Homo sapiens: one gene and its partners. The protein of the gene in region 6 interacts with the protein of the main gene of each other region in a pairwise test. Each region holds a gene or a part of one and is shown on either strand. Other genes may lie near its edges. The genes, in order: SNRPB2, alpha-crystallin A2 chain, GIPC1, STIP1, VBP1, GABPB1 and MAGEB18.

The links.
Region 1: the proteins of GABPB1 (region 6) and SNRPB2 interact in binary tests that used the Homo sapiens proteins (3 or more experiments, as listed by UniProt).
Region 2: the proteins of GABPB1 (region 6) and alpha-crystallin A2 chain interact in binary tests that used the Homo sapiens proteins (3 or more experiments, as listed by UniProt).
Region 3: the proteins of GABPB1 (region 6) and GIPC1 interact in binary tests that used the Homo sapiens proteins (3 or more experiments, as listed by UniProt).
Region 4: the proteins of GABPB1 (region 6) and STIP1 interact in binary tests that used the Homo sapiens proteins (3 or more experiments, as listed by UniProt).
Region 5: the proteins of GABPB1 (region 6) and VBP1 interact in binary tests that used the Homo sapiens proteins (3 or more experiments, as listed by UniProt).
Region 7: the proteins of GABPB1 (region 6) and MAGEB18 interact in binary tests that used the Homo sapiens proteins (3 or more experiments, as listed by UniProt).

What each region holds. Positions count from the first base shown.
Region 1 is NC_000020.11:16,736,526-16,740,025, forward strand, and holds part of SNRPB2 (U2 small nuclear ribonucleoprotein B''), read left to right. Parts: intron 1-735; coding exon 736-876; intron 877-2,326; coding exon 2,327-2,377; intron 2,378-3,500. UniProt on the Homo sapiens protein: Involved in pre-mRNA splicing as component of the spliceosome. Associated with sn-RNP U2, where it contributes to the binding of stem loop IV of U2 snRNA.
Region 2 is NC_000021.9:6,558,203-6,561,595, forward strand, and holds part of alpha-crystallin A2 chain, read left to right. Parts: intron 1-1,869; 5' UTR 1,870-2,580; coding exon 2,581-2,769; intron 2,770-3,393. UniProt on the Homo sapiens protein: Contributes to the transparency and refractive index of the lens. In its oxidized form (absence of intramolecular disulfide bond), acts as a chaperone, preventing aggregation of various proteins under a wide range of stress conditions.
Region 3 is NC_000019.10:14,489,628-14,493,127, reverse strand, and holds part of GIPC1 (PDZ domain-containing protein GIPC1), read left to right. Parts: intron 1-211; exon of another isoform or gene 212-215; 5' UTR 216-271; intron 272-1,384; 5' UTR 1,385-1,472; intron 1,473-3,500. UniProt on the Homo sapiens protein: May be involved in G protein-linked signaling.
Region 4 is NC_000011.10:64,192,671-64,196,170, reverse strand, and holds part of STIP1 (stress-induced-phosphoprotein 1), read right to left. Parts: intron 3,094-3,500; coding exon 2,884-3,093; intron 1,983-2,883; coding exon 1,841-1,982; intron 1,693-1,840; coding exon 1,551-1,692; intron 527-1,550; coding exon 358-526; intron 1-357. UniProt on the Homo sapiens protein: Acts as a co-chaperone for HSP90AA1. Mediates the association of the molecular chaperones HSPA8/HSC70 and HSP90.
Region 5 is NC_000023.11:155,222,960-155,226,459, forward strand, and holds part of VBP1 (prefoldin subunit 3), read left to right. Parts: intron 1-3,500. UniProt on the Homo sapiens protein: Binds specifically to cytosolic chaperonin (c-CPN) and transfers target proteins to it. Binds to nascent polypeptide chain and promotes folding in an environment in which there are many competing pathways for nonnative proteins.
Region 6 is NC_000015.10:50,306,699-50,310,198, reverse strand, and holds part of GABPB1 (GA-binding protein subunit beta-1 isoform beta 2), read left to right. Parts: intron 1-400; coding exon 401-508; intron 509-3,500.
Region 7 is NC_000023.11:26,137,214-26,141,142, forward strand, and holds MAGEB18 (melanoma-associated antigen B18), read left to right. Parts: upstream 1-1,129; 5' UTR 1,130-1,254; intron 1,255-1,710; 5' UTR 1,711-1,772; coding exon 1,773-2,804; 3' UTR 2,805-2,840; intron 2,841-2,966; 3' UTR 2,967-3,523; downstream 3,524-3,929. UniProt on the Homo sapiens protein: May enhance ubiquitin ligase activity of RING-type zinc finger-containing E3 ubiquitin-protein ligases. Proposed to act through recruitment and/or stabilization of the Ubl-conjugating enzyme (E2) at the E3:substrate complex.

The DNA of each region.
Region 1 (3,500 bases), on a different chromosome or scaffold from region 6:
GTTTAAAAGAAATTTTCCATCTAGTTTTCTGCCAGAAAAGTTGTTCTGTGGGGACTCTGCCAAACCAGCCCTAGTGTTCTGTGGGCCTATTCTATCTGTAAAACAGGATTAGTCTAGAATGGCGATTTTCTTTATTTTTCACCAGCTCCCTCAAATTGCATCCCTAGGTGCTCCCTCTGTGACTGTGGGGTGAGGGTAGGTTTGGAGAGGAAAGGGCATTTGGCCTCCAGTGGGCTCTGGAGCCACAGTTCTATGTCAAGCTGAGCAGTTTTGCTTTTGTTTGTTTTATATGTTGTTTGTTGAATACCTCTGGATTAGAATAGCTGATCTTGAGCCAGATCCTCAGGCACTGAGGAGATTTGAACAGTTCAGGATTCCAAAGCCCGCTGGTGGAGCCCACTCATTTGTTCCTTTAACACTTCAATGCAGTTTTCTCTATTCTTTGATTAAATGGAGAGAAGCCGTGGTACAGATATTTCAAAGTCCTGTGTTTCTCACATGAAAATATATGTTTTTTTAATCTAATAAACACACTTGAATCTAACTTTGTCTAAATTATGAATTATAGCCCACAGTTTACTTCCATTTGGCACTCAGTATATTCTGACAGATTTTCTTAGGGATATGTTTAAAATTAGCTTGTAGTGTATTTGCGTAATGAAATTTGAAATATTAATGACTAGTGTAAACATCCTTCAGCATGAGAAGTAACCTGTTTTCAAATAATTAAAACAGCGAATACAGTATGCAAAAACAGATTCGGATATAATATCAAAAATGCGTGGAACTTTTGCTGACAAAGAAAAGAAAAAAGAAAAGAAAAAAGCCAAAACTGTGGAACAGACTGCAACAACCACAAACAAAAAGCCTGGCCAGGTAAGAAAGACCAAGAAAGTTCCTGTTTGTATTGGTGTTAAAAACTTGATAGATGCTTGTCTTACAGGTAAGGAATGATCTTAGGCTTGTCTGTATATGTGCATAAATGTGTGTTTAAAAGGTGGTTTTAAGAAGCTAGAATGGTTGACTTATAAAATTCAGTATTAAGAAACAAAATATAAACCTTAACATGGAGATTTATATTAAGCAGTTTTATATTTGCATGGCATTTAATTCGATCATTGTTTAAAATATGTTAATACCTTTTGGTTTATTTCTCAAGTTTTGCTGCCTATAAATAATACTGTAGTTATTATCTTTAATCATGAGTACTTCACTCAAAGTATCTTTCTGGCTGGGCGCAGTGGCTCTTGCCTGTAATTCCAGCACTTTGGGAGGCCGAGGCAGGAGGATCACGAAGTCAGGAGATCGAGACCATCCTGGCTAACACGGTGAAACCCCGTCTCTACTAAAAATACAAAAAAAATTTAGCTGGGCTTGGTGGTGGGTGCCTGTAGTCCCAGCTACTCTGGGGGCTGAGGCAGGAGAATAGCATGAACCTGGGAGGTGGAGCTTGCAGTGAGCCGAGATTGTGCCACTGAACTCCAGCCTGGGCAACAGAGTGAGACTCTGTCTCAAAAAAAAAAAAAGAAAAAAAAAAACCCAAAAAACAAACAAAAAAAACAGTGTCTTTCTTTGAACAATTCAGTAATGCAAAATATAATTTGAAATACCAGATAAAAGTGAAATGAACTGCTTGGCGCCATGGTGGCTCATGCCTATAATCCCAGCACTTTGGGAGGCTGAGGTGGGTGGATCACCTGAGGTCAGGAGTTCAAGACCAGCCTGGCCAACATGGTGATACCCCGTCTCTACTAAAAATACAAAAAATTACCTGGCCGTGGTGGTGGATGCCTGTAATCCCAGCTACTCAGGAGGCTTGAAGCAGGAGAATTGGTTGAACCTGGGAGGCAGAGGTTGCATTGAGGCAAGATTATGCCATTGCACTCCAGCCTGGGTGACAAGAGCAAGACTCCATCTCAAAAAAAAAAAAAAAAAAAAGTGAAATTCACCAAAAAGTAATTACTTCTGGATTGAAAGTGATTAAAAGTCAGTTTTATTAAATGACTTATGTCCAGTTGTTTTTAAAAGTAAGACTAGGCCTTGGTTTTCTCTTATATATTTCTCCATAATTTTAAAGCTAAGAGGTTAAATTTTATAATATACTATTTAAAGTTTAGGGCTGGTCTTAACAAAAATAACCGACAAATTAAGAACATGAGTGTTTGAGTCAGTGTTAAGATATAAATTCTTAAAGTAAAATTAAATGGAGTAAGAAGGATATCTCTTGGAATTAATGTTATTTTTAATGCAGTAATTATAAATATAAATACCTGCTGCGTTTTTGGAGGGATTGGATATTTAAACTCTCCCTATTTATTTTGCTTAGGGAACTCCAAATTCAGCTAATACCCAAGGAAATTCAACACCAAATCCTCAGGTAATTTTTTTTCCATGTCGTGCTTACCTTAAAATAAGATTGTAAAAATTACAGCAGTGGTATAAAACAATTTCCATGTCTCCAAAAACAAAATGATTTCATCTACAAGACACAGTGCGTTAAATTGTCTGCCACTGCAATGTAAGAACTCAACTCCTGAAGAACATTTTAATTCTTTTTTAGAGAGAGAAAACGACACCTGACTTTATTTCTTGTTTTCCATAATGAATCAATGACAGAATCAAAATGACAGACTTTAAACTCTAAGGGCTGGGAGCAAACATTTTGGTTTCCTCTACAGTACCTAAAGCTTTACACAGTTGCATGGGTAAGGGTAACTGGCAGGGTCAGGGGCTCTCTTCCATTCCAGTTGGTTGAAACACTACAGTGTTACACTCTTTGGGCACATAGTTTTATAGTTAACCTTTGCTCTCACTTCCTGAACACAAATAAATTCCAGCCTTTTTTTTTTAAGCCTCCTTGTACAAATGTTTTAGAAACTCCGTATTAAATCTCCCCATGACATACCTCAAAGAGAAGGCCTCAGTAATGTGCTGATGGTTTCATACTTTTTTTTTTCCAGATGGCGGGGTCTGGCAAGATCCTTAAATCCATAGAATTCTCTGTACCACTGAGGTTTTTCTCCTCTTGTTTTAAGTTACTTGGGTTTTTTATCTCCTCAGCATTTATAGTCCAGTTCACAAATGCCAGCACTTAATCCTCTAAGCCTTGAGTTGTTCACTAATTATTTTTTATACTTGCTCTTTTCTCTTTTATGACAGTAGCAGGAAGACAGAGCTCTTTTCTTATATAGAAGACCCTTTCTTTAGTTCCCCATAACCTCTGGGTGGGATATCAAATGAGTAATATCTAATAAACTAAGTGTTTGTTACTGCTTGTTTGTATGTAACTAGATGCTGTGTATATCTCATTTATTTGCCAAAAATAAGTAAATTAAAAGTCCCTAAGCAGTGGTTCTCGGTGGTAATCTTTCTAGTTCCAATTTTTTTTTTTTTTTTTAGTATGCTGGGAAGTAGTAACAGTACAGAGGAATTGAGTATCTGAGTGATACTGAGTGTGGTAACCAGCTACGGAGGGGTGACATTGCTGGCCATCTCTAATT
Region 2 (3,393 bases), on a different chromosome or scaffold from region 6:
GGAGGCTGAGGCAGGAGAATCGTTTGAACCCGGGAGGCAGAAGTTGCAGTGAGCTGAGATTGTGCCACTGCACTCCAGCCTGGGCGACAGAGCGAGACTCCATCTCAAAAATAAATAAATAAAATAAATAAGTAAATCAAAATGAATGCAAAAAATTTGTGGTGGACAAACTGTCAACATTTTACATAAAGCCAGGATGAGGACGACGGCCTTCTCCTTTTGCTTCAAGCTCCAGCATGGCTCTGCCCAGCACTGACCGTGCTCCTGGCCTGGCTCGACCCTCCCCAGGGCCAAGCTCCATGCTGGTTTCCATCCCAAAGGACTCTTCTTCCCCCTCCCTGTGCCCCGGGAATAGGCAGCCAGCACAGTGGGGCCGCCCGCTGCCTCACCCAGACCCTGCCACTGCTTGGATGTTGACCCCCAGACTGGAAAGGTGGCTTTAAACCCCCTTCCCTTCTTCCAAGCCAAGTGACCTGGGTGTGCGGCTTAACCTTCTAAGCTCCCATTTCCTGGTCTATGAAGCGGGAATGATGCTGGGACCTGCTTCACAGGGTGGCTCTGAGGACCCACAGGCAGAGAGGTCTGGTGTAGGCTTTCGGGGGAAGCACCCATCACTCTCCCAGCGTTTCCTATCTGCACCTTAATTTGGCACCCCAGGGAATCGCTCCTCTGGAATTGTAACCTTGCAGGGCAAAAGCTATCATTTCAAGATTTTTTGGGATCCTGTGTCCCCGGACAGTGCTGTAAATGTAGGAGGAAGGGTGCTGCTCATGGGTGCTGCTCATGATGGAGGTGCCCCGTGGAGCACGCCTCGGAGCCCCCCCTTTCATCCCTGATCCCATCTGGGATGTGTCAGGTCTGATCCGCATACACTGGGGCATCTGACATTTCATGGCCTTCTGAGCCCATGGGCTGGAGATGAATTTGCAAAGCCCGGGAGTGTCCTGGGTGTGTGTTCACTCCACACGCACGAATCTGTTAGAGGCTGAGTAGGAACTAGGAGGCCAAAGAGAACCAGGCAACTTCCCACAGCCTGGACCGTACACTAGAAAAGCTAGCCTGGGAGAGGGGGCATGGCCTCTTCCCAGGCTGGCAGGGGGGATGTGGGGGAGGACCATGCTCCCCAGGGCCAGTTTACCAAAATATCAAAATACCAAAATATCAAAAGACTTAAAACTAGGAGTGAGCCAGGTGCAGTGGCTCACGCCTGTAATCCTACACTTTGAGAGGCCAAGGCAGGTGGGTCACCTGAGGTCAAGAGTTTGAGACCAGCCTGGCCAACACGGTGAAACCCTGTCTCTACTAAAAATACAAAAATAATAATAATAATAATAATAATAATAATTAGCCAGGTGTGGTGGCAGGCACCTGCAGTCTCAGCTACTCAGGAGGCTGAGGTGGGAGAATTGTTTGAACCTGGGAGGCAGAGGTTGCAGTGAGCTGAGATCGCGCCACTATATGATCTGGGCGCCACTCTGGGTGACACAGCAAGACTCCATCTCAAAAACAAACAAACAAAACCGGGAGTGCCTGGACACTTAGTGAGAACTGGACAGGGGCCATGGGTCGAGGAGCAAAATAATCACCAGGACTTGTGGATAACAGGATCATGTGGGTGGTGGGTCCGCATGGGTGACAGGGACGTGGGGACATGTCGCCACCCTGACAGGAGCAGCCCAACTCAACAGCCACGGCAGGTCATGCCACGGAGGCTCGAGGCGTTACGTGGGGATGTTACATCAAGGCATTACATCATTACGAGATGTAACGCTCGAGGCGTTACATCGAGGGGATGATGGCCATGGGGCTGGGCGTCCAGGGTGGGCCGCAGAGGGAAGCTCACCACGTGGTGCTCTCATCTGCCCACAGCCCAGCCCGTCTTCCTGTTGGAGGCATGTGACCCCTGGAGGACAAGCATGAAACGCCATAGGGCTCCCCCAGGTGCTGGAATTATGGCACCTTGCAGCTTCTTCTCCACGAGTTTTAACAAGCATGCGTACTTTTGTAAGTGGTGAGTGTAACGGAGGTTCACAGATGCACTCCGCTTTGGAAACCAGTGCACTCTTGCCCAGGCCCGGTGAGACTCTGACGACGATGTGTCTAACCTCTGTGTCTAACGGGGGTGTGGGCTCTCCCTCCTCTGGCGACCATGAGGACCACCCCGGCAGGACAAGGTGTGCAGAGAACTAGCATGGTCCCTGGCACGTAGCCCCTGCCCAGTGACTGGCAGATGAGAAGCTCCATTGTCGCCCCAGGCGAGTATGGGGCACAGGCGCCTCCTTGGGTTGTCTGCCCTCCCGGGAGCCCCAGGGTGCCCAGGCGGGCCTCAGCTGAGTCCAGGCCTCGGGGACAGTCCGTGCAGCCCCTCCTGGGGCTGGGGGCGGGCACTTGTCCCAGCCACGTTTCTGCTGACTGAGCAGCCTTCTTCATGAGCTCACGCCTTTCCAGAGAAATCCCTTAATGCCTCCATTCTGCTGGTGGCATATATAGGGAGGGCTCGGCCTTGGCTCCACACTGCGCTGCCCAGAGGCCCCGCTGACTCCTGCCAGCCTCCAGGTCCCCGTGGTACCAAAGCTGAACATGGATGTGACCATCCAGCACCCCTGGTTCAAGCGCACCCTGGGGCCCTTCTACCCCAGCCGGCTGTTCGACCAGTTTTTCGGCGAGGGCCTTTTTGAGTATGACCTGCTGCCCTTCCTGTCGTCCACCATCAGCCCCTACTACCGCCAGTCCCTCTTCCGCACCGTGCTGGACTCCGGCATCTCTGAGGTAAGACGTGGCCCGTGGTGCTGGCCTCTCCTCGCTGCTCAGAGGGTGGTGGCCTCGGTGGGTGGAGAGCGATGGACTCTGGTCTTGCTCCGTCAGGCAGGTGGCCTCGTCCCACTTCATCCCCTTGCAGAGGCTGGGCGAGAGCCTGTGTCCCCACTGCAGCCACGTGGTAGAGCTTCCCCTGGCACTGGGGAGAGGGTGGACAAGGGAGCAGCCTGAATCCACCTTTGCTTTCCTCCATCAGCTCATGACCCATGTGTGCTTTGTAAGGCACCAGCCACATACTGGAAACCCCAAGAGCAGCCCATCCAGGCATGCGTGGTGGCGAATGCCAGCTCCCGGGTTCCTCTGGTCTCCTGAGTCCCGGAGACCTGGGAGCAGGTGGGGGTCATAGTCCTGAAAGCCAGAGAGCAGGGCGTTCCTAGCACCTCCTCCAATGAGCTCGGCCTGCCCACGGCTAGCAAAGCTCTTGGCAAGTTTACTTAGGTGCCCTGCCAAGGCTAAAAGGACAGGCAATGGACGCCCCCCCCCCCCACCCAACCACAGGCCTCCTCTCTGAGCCACGGGTGAGCGGTGCAGGTTCTGCTGTTCTGGAGGGCCTGAGTCCCACCCAGCACCTCATAA
Region 3 (3,500 bases), on a different chromosome or scaffold from region 6:
AGGCTTCATGGAGGAGTGGGCCTGGAGTAGGTATTGGCAGGCAGAGAGGGTTGGGATATTCCTGGGCAGGGCAGGGCAGAGGAGGAGACACCCATAGTAATGACAACAGCGTCCTTAAATGGAGTCTGAGGCAGAGTGTAGATGGGATACGTGGGTAATCTCTTTGGATTTCCACAACCACCTTGAGAGTGACAGGAATTCCACCCATTTTTCAGATGAAGAAACTGAGGCCCTGTGATGTGAAGTGACTTGCCCCCCAGCCACACAGCTGGTAAGTGGCAGGGGTGGGATTTGAACCCAGGCCACGAAGCCTCTTATGGCCGTGGCAGGCAGATTCATTACTCACTCACTTTCCTCACTGCTGTTAATGCCTCCTCACGGGTGGGGACACGGAAGCTGGCATGAACCAGGGCAGTGGGGTGGGCAGAGAGAGAGAGTAAGGAGGCTGGGAATTGGTGGTCAGGATGTAGGGATCTTGGGAAAAGGAGGAAGCTTGAATCTTGGTACAGATGGCAGTAGCAAGGCCGGGTGCAGTGGCTCACGCCTATAATCCCAGCACTTTGGGAGGCCGAGGCAGGTGGATCACGAGGTCAGGGGATCGAGACCATCCTGGCTAACATGATGAAACAGCGTCTCTACTAAAAATACAAACAATTAGCTGGGCATGGTGGCGGGCACCTGTAGTCCCAGCTACTCGGGAGGCTGAGGCAGGAGAATGGCGTGAACCCGGGAAGCAGAGCTTGCAGTGAGCTGAGATCGTGCCACTGCACTCCAGCCTGGGCAACAGAGCGAGACTCCGTCTCAAAAAAAAAAACAAAAGATGGCAGTAGCAGTAATTGTCACCAATATTTATGCAACCCTTATTGTGTGCCAGGACTGTTCCAAGCACATGCATGATTTCCTTGGAGCTCAGAGAGGTTAAGACCCTTGCCCAAAGTCACACAGCTATTAAGAGATGAAGCCAGGTTCCAGATTCATGTTTTTAGTTTCCTGCCTCCCAGTGCGTAGAGCTGGCGGAATTGGAGGGATGATGAGGGGTCTTTTCTTTTTTCTTTTTTTTGAGATGGAGCCTCACTCTGTCACCCAGGCTGGAGTGCAGTGGCACGATCTTGGCTCACTGCAAACTCCACCTCCCGGGTTCATGCCATTCTCCTGCCTCAGCCTTCCGAGTAGCTGGGACTGCAGGCGCCCGCCACCACGCCTGGCTAATTTTGAAAATATATGGCTGGGCGTGGTGGCTCATGCCCACCTCGGCCTCCCGGAGTGTTAGGATTACAGGCGAGAGCCACCACACCCGGCCGACACTGATTTTTCTTTCCAGCGAGGTCAGAGCCCGGGGAGGGGTCAGAGCAGAGACAAATGCGACATGACTTATGTTTTACAGGACCATTCTGGCTGCTGTCTGGACAAGAAGTCGTAGGGGGTGAGGGTGGAAGCTGGGAAACCCACAGGAGGCAACCACACTAGTTTAGGTAAGTGATCATGGAGATGGACCAGGTGAGATGAGAGGGTGTGTTAGGGGACAGACGAATGGATGCATGAACAAATGGATACATGAGACTAGGTGCAGGCTGGGTGCAGTGGCTCACACCTCTAATCCCAGCACTCTGGGAGGCCAAGGTGGGCGAATCACCTGAGGTCAGGAGTTCCAGACCAGCCTGGTCAACATGGAGAAACCCCATCTCTACTAAAAATACAAAAATTAGCCAGGTGTGGTGGCACGCACCTGTAATCCCAGCTACTCAGGAGGCTGAGGCAGGAGAATCGCTTGAACCTGGGAGGTGGAGGTTGCAGTGAGCCGAGATCGCGCCATTGCACTCCAGCCTGGGTGACAGAGTGAGAGTTCATCTCAAAAAAAAAAAAGATTGGATGCGGCCAAGCTGAATCCAGCATGGCCCCCTGGAAGAGACCATTGGATAGGAGGCACCAGGAAGTCCCTTTTACATAAGAAAATATAGGCTGAGCGCAGTGGCTCACACCAGCCTTCTTTGGCTCACACCATGTTGGCCAGGCTGGTCTCAAACTCCTGACCTCAGGTGATCCACCCGCCTCGGCCTCCCAAAGTGTTGGGATTACAGGCGGGAGCCACCGTCCCTGCACCCGGCCTAACTAATGTATTTTCTTTCTTTCTTTCTTTCTTTTTTTTTTTTTTTGAGATGGAGTCTCGCTCTGTCACCCAGGCTAGAGTGCAGTGGCATGATCTCGGCTCACTGCAAGCTCCGCCTCCCGAGTTCACGCCATTCTCCTGCCTCAGCCTCCCGAGTAGCTGGGACTACAGGTGTGTGCCACCACGCCCAGCTAATTTTTTTTGTATTTTTAGTAGAGACGGGGTTTCACTGTGTTAGCCAGGATGGTCTCGATCTCCTGACCTCGTGATCCACCCGCCTTGGACTCCCAAAGTGCTGGGATTACAGGCGTGAGCCACCACACCTGGCCTTTTTTTTCTTTTTGAGACAGAATTTCGCTCTTATTGCCCAGGCTGGAGTGCAATGGCACTGTCTCAGCTCACCTCAACCTCTGCCTCCCAGGTTCAAGCGATTCTCCTGCCTCAGCCTCCCTAGTAGCTGGGATTACAGGCATGTGCCACTACACCCAGCTAATTTTGTATTTTTAGTAGAGATGGGGTTTCTCCATGTTGGTCAGGCCAGTCTCGAACTCTCGACCTCAGGTGATCCGCCTGCCTCTGCCTCCCAAAGTGCTGGGATTACAGGCGTGAACCACCGTTCCTGGCCTAACTAATGTATTTTCTTTTTTTTCTTTTTGAGACTGAGTCTCTCTCTGTTGCCCAGGCTGGAGTGCAATGGCACGGTCTTGATTCACCGCAACCTCCACCTCCCAGGTTCAAGCAATTCTCCTGCCTCAGCCTCCCCAGTAGCTGGGATTACAGGTGCCCACCACCGTGCCTGGCCTAATTTTTTGTAATTTTAGTAGAGACGGGGTTTCACCATGTTGGCCAGGCTGGTCTTGAACTGCTGACCTCGTGATCCGCCCGCCTCGGCCTCCCAAAGTGCAGGGATTACAGGTGTGAGCCACTGCACCTGGCCAACTACTGTAAGTTCTGGAGAACTAATCCGGGCTCTTGAGAGCAAGCACTCATTGCTTCCAGAGCTACTTCAAGCCATTCAGGAGAGATCTGGCCCCATAACACAGACACCTCCCACTAGGCCCCACCTCCCAACACCGCACCACCACTTTGGGGATCAAATTTTAGCATGAGTTTCTTTTTTTTTTTTTTTCTCCTTGCCATGTTTCACATTTAATAAGATTCTGTCACTTTAATACATAAAACCCTTTGAAATCAATGTCAACCAGGAAAATTCATGTTAGAAAAAATTGGAATGAGAGCTAATATTGTATATTCAGAACATCTGAAAAAACATTTTTGACTATTACAAAAGTTTATTTAACAAAAAGTCTAATATGAAAATGTACATGACCTAATTTTTACATCATAGTAAAACAGGCCCTATGGAGAGAGGACATGGGTTTCTCTGCTGAAC
Region 4 (3,500 bases), on a different chromosome or scaffold from region 6:
GCCCACCTTGGCCTCCAAAAGTGCTGGGATTATAGGCATGAGCCACCGTGCCTGGCCTGAAGCTGATTTTTTAACATGCTGGCCATTCTAATGAATAATAGCCATAAGCTTAGCGCATACTAAAGCACTCAAAATAGTTTTAGGTGGGCACAGTGGCTCGTGACTGTAATCCTAGCTGAAGCAGGAGCATCGCTTGAGGCCAGAAGTTCAAGACCAACCTGGGAAACACAGCAAGACTCCGTCTCTAAAAAAACCATAATAATCATGGTCAATCAAGGTCAACAGATGTCCCCATTCAACATAAAGATTTCTAGTTGTTTATAGATAGGTGACAGTGAGGAGAGAAAAAAACAAGACCTGCTTCTTATTCTCTGGAAGATCTTCTTCCATTGGCTCTGGCTTGGTCTCCTTTTTGGGAGGGGGTGGTGGTGGAGGTGTTGCAATCTCTTCCTCCTCATCCATACTGCCCAGATCGACCCCAAGGAGGACGCTGAGAGTGGTCATGATCCGGGGATCTTGTAGTTTCCTAGTATTGATTTAAAAAAATAAAGAAAAATTGTAATTACTCCTCCCCACAATTAGTCTTTTAACTCCCACTTACTACTAAAGTCAGATTCTTGTGTTTAGAAGCTCCTCACCCATCAAAAGATGGCTAGATTTTGCACCACTCATGAGTTACAATTGAGAAATACTCAAACCGTCAAAACACTATCTAAAATAGAGTCAACAAAAACAAATAAAATGAAGTCACAGATAGCGGAGCACGGTGGCTCACACCTGTAATCCCAGCACTTTGGGAGGCCGAGGCGGGCAGACCACTTGAGGTCAGGAGTTTGAGACCAGCCTAGCCAACATGGTGAAACCCACCGCTACTACTAAACATACAAAAATTAGCTGGGCGTGGTGGCGTACACCTGTAATCCCAGCTACTCAGGAGGCTGAGGCAGGAGAATCGCTTGAACCCAGGAGGTGGAAGTTGCAGCGAACTGAGATCACACCACTGCACTCCAGCCTAGGGGACAGAGCGAGACTCCATCTTGAAAAAATAAAATAAAATAAAATAAAATAAAATGAAGTCACAGAGGTCAAGTTTATTCCTCAAGGTTAGCAGATACACAGAGGAATGAGTTGTTTTAGGTATACTTCCGTAGCTGATCTCAGGAGCCAGAGGATTGATAGAGATGAATACCAGTACAAGATTTAGACACATCTTTACACATGAACTTCAACCCTGTTTCCACTCTGATATACCAACAGAGAAAGTAGGGCCTAAGTAGATGGAAAGGATGGGGTTGACGCTAGATCAGAGTTCTAGAAGAGCAGGAGAGAGGTGTATACAGATGACAAAGAACATTCTAGATTACTGTGAAATATGCTCCCCTGACCCTTTCTATAATTACAAATAAACGACCACCACCTACTGCTCTGCAGAGAATAAGCAAAGGCAAAAACTCTGCAGTTTAGACCAGGGAACCCTCTGCTGTGAGGTTACAGGAAGAAAGCATAACATTCCCCGATTTCCAGAACCTCAGTGAGCGGCGTCCACTTACGTGCCCAGGTCAGAAGGCTTGTTTCGTAGCTGCTCTATCAGCTCCCGGTAGGTAGGATCACTGAGTAGTGTCCTTGTCCTGGGATCACTCTCCAACTTCTGATACAGATTAGGCATGTTGAAAGGGTTCATGAATTTTCTCTCTGTCCAAATAAAGGAAAGCACATCACTATGAAATGAGTTCACTAGAATTACTGTGTCCCATACCCTACCAGACTGACATTTCTCAGGGGTGAAGACTCAAAATTAATCACATTAATAATAAGAAAGAAAACTGTGCGTGGTACCTACCTGCCAACCTGGCCTCCATATTCTGTAAACCCTCTTTCAGTTGAGGGTTATTTGCCTCGTGTTTTAAGCCCTCCTCATAGGTTCGCTTGGCTTCTTCAAAGCGGTTTAAGAACTCTAGAGCTGCTGCTTTTCGTGAATAGCCCTTAAACCACCAAAGACAGACACAAAATAGAGAACACCCAGAGGTAAATCTAGAAGACGAACTCAAAAAAGAACAATTCTACTTTTATGGGGGAAAAATGAGTATTCACATGAAGGCCAAAGAGAAAAAAAGGAGAGGAGTAGGCTACGAGGCCAAGGCTGCTACTGTAAGGATCCATCCAAATAGCAGAGGCACATCCGCCCCGCCTTGTTCACCTCTGATCGACTGTGGTCAGTTTCTTTGGCAACACTTTTTCCCTTATTTTTTTGGTAAAGACAGGGACTCCTTATGTTACCCAGGCTGGTCCCAAACCTTTGGGCTCCAGTAATCCTCCTGCCTCAACCTCCCAAAGTGCTGGGATTATAGGCGTGAGCCACTGTACCGGGCCTCTTCCTTTTTTTTTGAGACAGGGTCTTGCCGTGTCACCTGGGCTGGATGCAGTGGCACGATTTCAGCTCACTGCAACCTCCGCTTGCCAGGCTCAGGTGATCCTCCTGCCTTAGTCTCCTGAGTAGATGGGACTACAAGCACATGCCACCATGCCTGGCTAAATTTTTTTGCATTTTTAGTACAGACAGGGTTTCACCATGTTGGCCAGGCTGGTCTTGAACTCCTGACCTCAAGTGATCCGCCCACCTCAGCCTCCCAAAGTGTTGGGATCACAGGCGTGCGTCACCGCGCCCAGCCCTGGCCTCTTCCTTCTTAGTACCAAAAATAAAGCCTGTATTACAACTAATGGCTACCTTAGATTTGATGAAAAATGCCATTTCTGAGGAGGATACTCAAACAGGGAGGTGGGTAGGTAACTATCAGTGTATCAGGACAGGTAAACCTCAGGCCACCAAAAGGCATTTCTGGAAGGGTCTGAAGGGCCTCTCTCCCTCCACTGCCCACAGCTGACCTTGCCCCAGTCAGGCTTTAGGTCGACAGTCTTGCAGCCATCCTCATAAGCCTTCTGGTAGTCTCCTTTCTTGGCATAGGCAGCAGAACGGTTGCTGTACAGCACGTGGTTGTGGGGATCCAGCTTAATAGCTTCGGAGTAGCACTGTAAGGCATCATCGATGTTACCCACGCTCAGGGCCTTGTTGCCTTTCTCCTTCAGCTCATTGACCTGAGGGGAAAGGAACACACAGCTTCTCTATGATGTGCCCATTTAATCCCAAGCTTTAAAGACAACACTCATTCTTTCATGTAGTTACCAACAAATAAATAGGTGACTTTACAGATCAGAAGAGAGAAAACCGGTTCATTTATTTAATTTCTCACACCTTCCCTAAGGAGCCAGCAAAGAAAAAATAAGCAGGGGCAAAGAGCCCAGGCTGCACTCCACGCTGGCCCCCATGTGACGAACGAGGGCTCTGCCACTCTTCCGGTCTCCACATGGAGCTCACGAAGCCACTCCAGAATGTGCCACATGCTCCTTCCATGGAAAAGTCAATTCATTTGCCACAGATTTCCAAAGCATCCAAATGACAAACAGAGCACAGCCCTAGTCACCCCTCACAGGAAGAAGGTGGG
Region 5 (3,500 bases), on a different chromosome or scaffold from region 6:
AGCCTCCCAAGTAGTTGGAGGGCTACTTTTCTCTTTTTATTTTTCTGGAATTTCTCTCACTCCTATGATGTCAGCTATGCAACAAAACTATTTTTGTGTCATGATCTAGTTGTTTTGCAGCAGATGGCTCTATGTAGTTTACATGCTAGCCTTTTTGTTTTTTTTTTTTTTCAATTTGCTATTATTTTATTTAGGATTTTTGAATTTCTGTTCATAAGTGAGTTCAGCCTATTTCTTTCTTTTTTTAATTTTTTTAGTATTGATCATTCTTGGGTGTTTCTCGGAGAGGGGGATTTGGCAGGGTCATAGGACAATAGTGGAGGGAAGGTCAGCAGGTAAACATGTGAACAAAGGTCTCTGGTTTTCCTAGGCAGAGGGCCCTGCCGCCTTCCGCAGTGTTTGTGTCCCTGGGTACTTGAGATTAGGGAGTGGTGATGACTCTTAACGAGCATGCTGCCTTCAAGCATGTGTTTAACAAAGCACATCTTGCACCGCCCTTAATCCATTTAACCCTGAGTGGACACAGCACATGTTTCAGAGAGCACGGGGTTGGGGGTAAGGTTATAGATTAACAGCATCCCAAGGCAGAAGAATTTTTCCTAGTACAGAACAAAATGGAGTCTCCCATGTCCACCTCTTTCCACACAGACACAGCAACAATCTGATCTCTCCTTCCTTTCCCCACATTTCCCCCTTCTCTATTCGACAAAACCTCCATCGTCATCATGGCCCGTTCTCAACGAGCTGTTGGGTACACCTCCCAGACGGGGTGGCGGCCGGGCAGAGGGGCTCCTCACTTCCCAGACGGGGCGGCCGGGCAGAGGCACCCCCCCACCTCCCGGACGGGGCGGCTGGCCGGGCGGGGGCTGCCCCCCACCTGCCGGACGGGGCGGCTGCCAGGCGGAGGGGCTCCTCACTTCTCAGATGGGGCGGCTGCCGGGCGGAGGGGCTCCTCACCTCTCAGACGGGGTGGCTGGTCAGAGACGCTCCTCACCTCCCAGACGGGGTGGCGGCGGGGCAGAGGTGCTCTTCACATCTCAGACGGGGTGGCTGGGCAGAGGCGCTCCCCACATCTCAGAGGATGGGCGGCCGGGCAGAGACGCTCCTCACTTCCTAGACGGGATGACGGCCTGGAAGAGGCGCTCCTCACTTCCCAGAGTGGGCGGCCGGGCAGAGGGGCTCCTCACATCCCAGACGATGGGCGGCCAGGCAGAGACGCTCCTCACTTCCCAGATGGGGTGGCGGCCGGGCAGAGGCTGCAATCTCGGCACTTTGGGAGGCCAAGGCAGGCGGCTGGGAGGTGGAGGTTGTAGCGAGCCGAGATCACGCCACTGCACTCCAGCCTGGGCACCATTGAGCACTGAGTGAGCGAGACTCCGTCTGCAATCCCGGCACCTCGGGAGGCCGAGGCTGGCAGATCACTCGCGGTCAGGAGCTGGAGACCAGCCCGGCCAACACAGCGAAACCCTGTCTCCACCAAAAAAATACGAAAACCAGTCAGGCGTGGTGGCGCGTGCCTGCAATCCCAGGCACTCGGCAGGCTGAGGCAGGAGAATCAGTCAGGGAGGTTGCAGTGAGTCGAGATGGCGGCAGTACAGTCCAGCCTCGGCTCGGCATCAGAGGGAGACCATGCAAAGAGGGCGAGGGCGAGGGTGAGGGTGAGGCTAGCCTTTTTCTTTGTATGTGTTGTAAATCTTGCAGCCTGTCATTTAACTTTACCCTTCAAGCTGTGTAAAAGTTCCTTAGTATTTCATGTGTTAATCTCTTTTTCGACACTTGAATCTGAGATCTTTTATCTTTCTTTAATTGGAAATTTTGTGATTATCACTTTTTCTATCGTCTGTTAATTTTTTTTCCTCTTTCTTTCTGGGATTCCTGTTTACAGATGTTGACACTTCTAATTCTGCCTTCCATTTATTTATATTATTTCCCTTTTTTCTGTCTTTGTCATTTATCTTTTGGCAATTAGATGGATAGCCATGAGTTCTTTGTTTCAGCTGTTAAGATTTTTATAGCTGGTAGTTCTGGTTGGTTCCTCTTCATATTACCAATATCCTTTCTTTTCTCTTTGTGGTATCTTTAAGTATTTAATGTATAGTTTTATCTTTTGGTATTTGTTAATTTTGTTTCATATGGTAGAGGTTGTTGAATTTATTGTCTTTATTTATTATAATGATCAAATTATAATGTCTTTTCCCTGTCAGCTTAGATTCCCTCAGGGATATCAGCTACTTTGGCCAGTAATGTACGTGGAGGTGGGGGTAATTTAAGTCACTCCTGGTGGGTAGCAGTGGCGCTACCTCGGCTCACTGCAACCTCCACCTCCTGGATTCAAGGGATCCTCCCGCCTCAACTTCCCAAGTAGCTGGGATTACAAGCATGCACCACCACGCCCAGCTAATTTTTTTGTATTTTTTTTTAGTAGAGACTGAGTTTCACCATGCTGGCCAGGCCGGTCTCGAACTCCTGGCCTCAGGTGATCCACCCGCTTCGGCCTCCCAAAGTGCTGGGATTACAGGCGTGAATCACTGTGCCCAGCCAAGCTACTTTCTCTTCAGGTGAAGCAGGGTAGGGAGGAGTGTATTGCTTGGGCATGTGCTGTGTCATTGGTGGTCTGGTTCCTAAGTTAGCTAGGGCTGCATCTGATTGATTCATTAATATGCTTTATAGCATATTACATATAATATTTATATATACAGAATGCATCTTAAAAGTCATTTACATGACAAAAAATCTTGATCTGAACATACTCCTTATGTTGTGTGTGTATCACATATTTTACAAATGTATAACATCTTTCTGTTTACCTATATGAACATATCATGCAAAAATAAGCAAACTTGAGCAATCTATGGCATCCAGATTGAATTGTAGTGAAAAAATGAATGCTAGGTGTTTCTAGATTATTCACTGGACTGTATTATCAAATGATGACACTATGTTTTTTTCTTAAGCAGCAGGCTCATTTAACACATTTCTTGCCAGGTCAGTAGCACAGGGTGTAGTAAATTTGCCCTGCCAACCTGCTGCACACATGGAGTGACTTCTTTTATGTGACGCAATAAGTTCATTTTCATTGTTGTGTTTATATTTTGTTTACATTTTGGTCTCTAATAATATTTAGTAAATTTACCTCGAAAGAACCAGAGCTTCGTTTTTATATCCTTAGTCTGTTTTGCTAGAAATTACATTTGACAGAGACCCTAGAACTGTTTTGCATATATCTCCATGCAAAACACATGCATCTAATTACCATAAAGAGCTAAACCCCAGTGACAAAAACGGTATCATTGTTTTCTCTCTTTAATTGACTGAATGTTTTTAGCATACTGTTTTTCTCTTATGTTCTTGTCAGTGAGGTTGATTGCATTTGGGAGTCACTTACTAGCATTTTGCTAGTAGCTATCATATAACTTATCCATTAAGTCGGATCAGTTGTATCATGTCCATCATTGTTTTTTTAAATTTCTTGTGTTTAAATCAGTGATCCATTTATAATT
Region 6 (3,500 bases):
ATCACATGAACCCAGGAGGCGGAGGTTGCAGTGAGCCAACATCGTGCCACTGCACTCCAGCCTGGGTGACAGGCCGAGACTCTGTGTCAAGAAAAAAATAAATAAATAAAAATTTAGGCCAGCTTTTCTCTGCTACTTACCTCTTCTATCTTTTACCAGATGTATTTGGAGAATTTAAACTACTTTTATTCTAAGTAAAAACTTAATGAGAAAGGAAAATGGATTCTAAAATCCAAATATAAATTGCTTTTGTATGATCTGTAATTTTAAATTAACCATAGCACACTCTTTTGAAGGGATAATTGAGAACTGACTTATTAATAAAGACAGGAAGGGAAAATGTCATGTCATAGTGTATAAATGGAGATTTTGATGTTCAGTTCATCTATGTTTTGTTTAGATGTCCCTGGTAGATTTGGGAAAGAAGCTTTTAGAAGCGGCACGAGCAGGTCAAGATGATGAAGTTCGTATTTTGATGGCAAATGGAGCTCCCTTTACTACAGACTGGGTAAAGAATGATTTTAATATTGTGTGTTCTTTTTCCTTCTCATTTTTGAGTTTTTGCAGAGAAAAATGTAGTCAGTATTGTGTTTATAAGTGGTAAAAAGTTATTATTTTTGCAAATGTGTTTATTATTTTAGAATTATAACTGTCCTAAAAGAAGTGGTTTATATTATTTTCTTTGATATTGGACAACCTTATCCAAATATTTCATCCACAAAGAGTTTTTCTTTCAAACTGTGGAGTGCATTAATGTGGCATGAATATAAAAATGTATCTGCTTGGGATTTAATTTAAAGGCCTTATAAATAGCACAGGTAGAATTTATAATTCAGAAAGATACTGATAAAGATTGGAGTTAGTGTTAATAGTCACTCCTAAAAGAAAAACAAGTTTATGTTTCAATTATTACTTGTAAAACTGTTGCAGACATGACGAAAGAGGAAGAAAGGAATGGGAATGAGATCTTGACAACTATGGAAAGAAGGTAGTTGTGGGGAAGGCAAAAAAAAATAACTCTTTAATTCTGGGGGCAAATAAAAAAGTATTGTCTTGTGGATATGGAATGCTAGGAATCTGAATTAACCTGCCCATTGGTAACAACTAAAAATTCCAGATTTTTGATTTTGCCGTTTTTGCCTTTCTTTCTCTTTTTACATTTTTCATGAAAAAACAAAATTTTTTATTATAGAAAATTTCAAATATATATCAACGATATCCCTGTAATACCCTTTACCCAACTTCAAAAATTATCAAATCATGATGAATATTGTTTCCTCTATAACTCTGTCTACTGTATTATTTTTTGTTCTGTATTATTTTAAAGCAAATTCCAGGGACCATATCATTTTATCCATAAATGTTTCTTTAAAGAATAAATAAATCTTTAAAGAATAAAGACTTTTTGATGAAATATTTTAAAGAAAGTCTTCTTAAGTACACTGCTGAATTAGAAAGAAAGAGATTATCAACCTGAAAAACTAAGTGAAGGCAAGAACCCAGAGAAATTTTACCCTAAAGAACATTAGGTGAACTCACACTTGTCTGGTGGTTTTTCCACCTCACTGGCTTGGGGTACTAAAGCTAAAGACCTGAGAGTGTTCATGGAGAGAAGTCTGATAGGAGATCTTATCTCATAATTCTGGAATCCCAAAGAGCTGCACCTTCAGTGTAGGGATAAAGCAGGAATACCCTGTCCCTCCTCCTGTCTGCTCCTGCCCTTGCCCCTGTTGCCGTGATGCTGCAAAGATAATAAGCTGATGTGAACCAAGACATCAAATGGAGAGAGGAAAACAATCTGATGGTGAGAATTTGGAATCACAAGGCATCCTTTTTACACACTTGCAGCCTGAACTCATAAATACTTGTGTAGTCTAAAAAACTGTAAACTGAGAAATGAATTTGAAGTGATCTTTGGACTAGGGATTACCCCAGGCTCTTGACAGAAGCAAATGAATATCTGCTCTGGAGGAACCTGCCTTCATCCCAGGCTTCATATCCACAAATGAAATTCAAAGGAAAGTGAGCAGTCAGAAATAACTAAACACATGAACACATGCCAATTTGGACAGTAATCTGCTAAAACAACTGTCAACAGAAGCAGACCTATAAGGACTTGAGATAAAATTTTAGTAACAGATTAGAAACAGCTAAAGAGAAAATTAGTAAACTGAAAGGTATGAAAAAAAAAATGATCCAGACTATGTCACAGATAAAAATAGATAGAAAATGTAAAAGAGATGTTAGGAATCATGAAGGATCATGTGAGAAAGTCTAACATCTGATCATAGATCCACAAAAAGAGCAAAAATAGGGATGAAATAATTCAAAGAGGTAATTGCTGAGAATTTTCCAGAACTGATGAAAGATGGCAGCCCACAGATTTGAGTAGCCTAACAAATCTCCAGCAGGATCAATTTAAAAACTAATCTATATCTAGATATATCATAGTGATGCTGTAGTACCTCAAGACAAAAAGATCTTTTTTTTTTTTTTTGAGATGGAGTCTCACACTGTTGCCTGGGCTGGAGTGCAATGGTTCAGTCTCGGCTCACTGCAACCTCCGCCTGCCGGGTTCAAGTGATTCTCCTGCCTCAGCCTCCCAAGTAGCTGAGATTACAGGCACCCACCACCAAGCCCAGCTAATGTTTTGTATTTTTAGTAGAGATGGGGTTTCAATATGTTGGCCAGCTGGTCTTGAACTCCTGACCCCGTGATCAGCCCGCCTCGGCCTCCCAAAGACAGAAAGATCTTAAGAAGGATTAGTATCCATAATACATAAGGAATTCCCATGGGTTAGCAATAAAAAGACAAGGCAATAGAAGACTGACTGGATATGGTGCTTTACCAAGGAGAAAGTTTGATCAATAAACATGAAAAGATACTCAACTACATTAAAATTGGGGCAAATGCAAAGTAAAATCATGAAATACTATTATATATCCACCAGATTAGCAAAAACAGTTGAGCAGTACCAAGGCTTGGTGAGGAGATGGTGGGAACTCTCAAATATTTTTGGTGGAAGTATGGAATTGGTATAATCGTTATGGAAGACAGTTTGGCAGCACATAGTAAATTTGGAGATGTGCATAGTATATGATGTAGCAGTTGGGCTTCTAAGACTATTCCCGAGAGAAGACTTGTTCATGTGCCTGAAACATATACAAGACTACTGTATTTAGCAGCAACATTATTCATAATAACACAAAAACTGGAAACAATCTAAATGTTCATCAGTAGATTGGTTAAATTAATTGTGGTTTACTCATTCAATGGAATATTATAGAACACAGAAAATTAGTAAGCTATACTTACAGTTATTAACATGGTGAATCTCATGAATACAGTGTCAAGCAAAAGAAGGCAAGTCACAGAGAAATACATGCAGTATAATTCTGTTTAAATAAAACTCAAAACAGGCAAAACCAAAGTATATTTTTTAGGGATAAGTGATACAAAGAAAACTAAGTAATGCTTGTCACAAAATTCAAAATATTAGT
Region 7 (3,929 bases), on a different chromosome or scaffold from region 6:
CGGAACAATGGATACTGGGGCCTTTTAGAAGGTGGAGGGTGGGAGGAAGGAGAGGGTCAGGAAAAATAACTAATAGGTGCTAGACTTAATACAAGGCTGATAAAATAATCTGTACAACAAACCCCCATGACACGAGTTTACCTATATAACAAACCTACACATATACTCCTGTACTTAAAATAAAGGTTAAAGAAAAAGAAGCCTCAAGGAATCTTGTAAAAACATTTGTGCTACCTCAAGACTTTAAGTCATGAAATTCACTGTGAACTGGATTAGGATCTTACGCGAGGGGCATAAGTAAAGCTTTTCAGAAATTCAAAGCTGACTCAGCCAGTGTAGTAGAAACAAAACAAACATAATATACAAAGCATTAAATTGAAAGTAATGGTTCCAAATAAGGAAAGATCCTAGCTACTTAAGATTTTCTCTGAGAAGTTCTTTTCTGGATTACTTTTAGTGCCTGAATGAAAGATCCTTTGATGTTTCTGTCATCCTCATTTTTCTCCTAATGTACCATCCTGAAAATCTATTTCAATAAATTTGAGAGGGCTTTAAAAATAAAAAAAAATGGAATGAAAAATATACCATTCAAAAGAGCAGCAACATTCAAAATATACCTAAAAAGAACATTCACAAAAACATACACACTCTATCAAAGCAAATATAAAAATGTGTTGATAGACTTAGGTGGATGCCTAAGTACAGCAATACAATATGTTTATATATGGTGAACATAATATTGTACAGATGTCAATTATCTTTATTTACAGATTTAGTGCCTTATTTGATGGCCTCAAGTCAGCAGAGAAGTGGCCCAGCACCTACAAAAAGTCAAGATAAGACACTGAGTGAGGACTGAGGGCATTACCTACCCAAGAAGAGGGACCCCCACAGAGCCCCGCCCCTACTGTCAATCTTGGGAGTCCCCAGGCGTGGCTGCTGGGCTCAGGTTCCACCTTACTTCCTACTCTGGACTCAGGGAAATGATCCTTTTTCTGAGGCTGACTGATTCAGCTTAGCAAAGAGAGAAGTCCCAGTGCCTGCAAAGTCAATGAAAGAAATATATGTATTTCTTTAAGAACTGCCCCTCCCCCGAACGCAGAACCATTTGCCGTTAAGCTGGGAGAGCAAAGTGGGCGTGGCCGGACATGTTTCTCTTGACCTATCTTCCACATCATCAAGCTGTTACGGGCGAAACCTTGGTCTGAAACATGCGGCCAGAGAAATAAATCTCAGGATCCGGCAGGTGTCAAAGTGAGTATCATTTGTTATGACCTTCAAGACACACTCTTCCCAGAACAGAGGCTGCCTCACAGAGACCCATCCTTCTCTGCTCTGTCCTGCTCCCACTTTCAACTCTCTGTGTCCCAAAGCGCAGCTGTTAGGCCTAACACCCTTACTTCCTGTTGGGAATCTGTGGGATGGGAAGCCATGGTCTAAAGCGAGGCAGCCTCAAGTCAACAGACGGAGGACTCAAAAGACTAAAGTAAAATTAATATCCTAAGTTAGAACTGATGTAGTCAGGAGTAAAATTAATATCCTGAGTTAGAACTGATGTGACAACCCCCCACAGAACAGTCCCACCCCGCTCCTGCCTTATGGGTTCCTAAAGCAATACCCTCAAGAGAACCAGGAGAGGTGGCCATTCTTAGACCAAGGTAGAATCTCCCTACCAAGGCTGTGAACACTATCTCATCCTCCGTCTTCTAGGGTGCCCTCTTCATCAATTCAACTGCCTGCACTATTGTCTGTAGTCCCTGACAAGAGTAATTATGCCTCGAGGTCAGAAGAGTAAGCTCCGTGCCCGTGAGAAACGCCACCAGGCTCGTTGTGAGAATCAGGATCTGGGAGCTACGCAGGCCACTGTGGCAGAAGGAGAGTCACCCTCCCCTGCCTATCTTCTCTTTGGTGACAGACCCCAGAATTTGCCTGCTGCTGAGACACCTAGCATCCCTGAAGCGCTTCAGGGAGCCCCATCCACCACCAATGCTATTGCACCTGTTTCATGCAGTTCAAATGAAGGTGCCAGCAGCCAAGATGAGAAAAGTCTAGGTTCCTCAAGGGAAGCTGAGGGCTGGAAAGAAGATCCTTTAAACAAGAAAGTAGTGTCGCTGGTGCATTTCTTGCTTCAGAAGTATGAAACGAAAGAGCCAATTACAAAGGGAGATATGATAAAGTTTGTTATCAGGAAGGATAAGTGTCACTTCAATGAGATCCTCAAGAGAGCCTCTGAGCACATGGAGCTGGCACTTGGTGTTGATTTGAAGGAAGTGGATCCCATCAGGCACTACTATGCCTTTTTCAGCAAATTAGACCTCACCTATGATGAAACAACCAGTGATGAAGAAAAAATTCCCAAGACTGGCCTCCTGATGATTGCACTGGGTGTGATCTTTCTGAATGGCAACCGTGCCCCAGAAGAGGCAGTCTGGGAAATTATGAATATGATGGGTGTATATGCCGATAGGAAGCACTTCCTCTATGGGGATCCCAGGAAGGTCATGACCAAAGATTTGGTGCAGCTAAAGTACCTGGAGTACCAGCAAGTGCCCAACAGTGATCCTCCACGCTATGAATTCCTGTGGGGTCCAAGAGCTCACGCTGAAACTAGCAAGATGAAAGTCCTGGAGTTTGTAGCCAAGATACATGATACCGTCCCTAGTGCCTTCCCATCCTGCTATGAAGAGGCTTTGAGGGATGAGGAACAGAGAACCCAAGCCAGAGCTGCAGCCAGGGCTCATACTGCTGCCATGGCAAATGCACGTTCCAGAACCACGTCTAGCAGCTTCTCCCATGCTAAGTGAAATCTGAGGCTTGTTCTTCACTTTTTGGTCGAAAAGGTCTGTCAACATTCTAATAGTGGAGGGCCATGGTGGGGCTGGAAGAAATAAGTGTATATCATCTTTGCATTCCTATTGTATATTGATAACTCGAGTTTTACTTTTCCATCTTTTTGTTTCCCCTAGGTTACATTTCAAATGTTCAAGTCTGAAGATTGTTTTCTTTGTGGAAGAGAAGAGCAGTCAACATTCTAAGTAGTGAATGGCCAGAGTGCGTCTGGAGGGAACACAGCATATATCATTTTGTGTTAATAGTCTATAGTAACTCGGAGTTGTATCTTTTTCTTTCTTTTTTTTTTGGTGTTATATTTCAAATGTTGTTGCTTATAATAGAAGTTTTAGATAACTTCAGAATCTATATTTATTAATGACTTTGGTTACACACGTATTGCTATTTAAGAGTAGGAGTTTTATTGTTCTGTAAAACAAATTGGGAAACCTTCTTTCATATTTAATGAGCCAGAACAAGGAAACACAGTATTGGAATAGGTATTTCCTTAAAAAATGTGAGATGATTTAGCAGTAAAATTTTGGAGATCAAAACATAGGTGAGAAAAAGTAAACTTTTCAGTTCTTGGTTTTCTTTTTCCATTTTAGTCTGTTATATAAAAATAAAAGTCATACCTGGATTGGCTTAGCTTACTGAAGAAGGTAGGAAGAAATAAAATGTTTATGAACCAGCATCTATGCTTACCGGCTCATTCATTCCTCCAATATTAATCCAACATCTGATTTTTGAAAGTAATTTTGTTAGAAATGGGAAAACCAGGATACAAAACACCCACCTCTGCTTAGACTTTTACAATTAATGAACAGTAATAATGTATGGAAGATGGTGAAATACTTCTAAGACCTAAAGGACAAGTAACAAGAGGGAGTAAGGAGGTAAGGAGTTAGAGAGGGGTTTGGGAAAAGTGCTGAAGTGTATCTGGCTGAAAATGGTAAGGTGCAAATTCTCTGAAGAAAGGCCCTTTTAGACTTTTGGAAACTTTGAGTCTCTCAGTGGGATATACTTTTAATTTAAGCTGGGTGGTGGGCTAGATGAAGCTTTGGGACTGGAGAGCAGAGGCCAGGCACTCAGATGGTGTG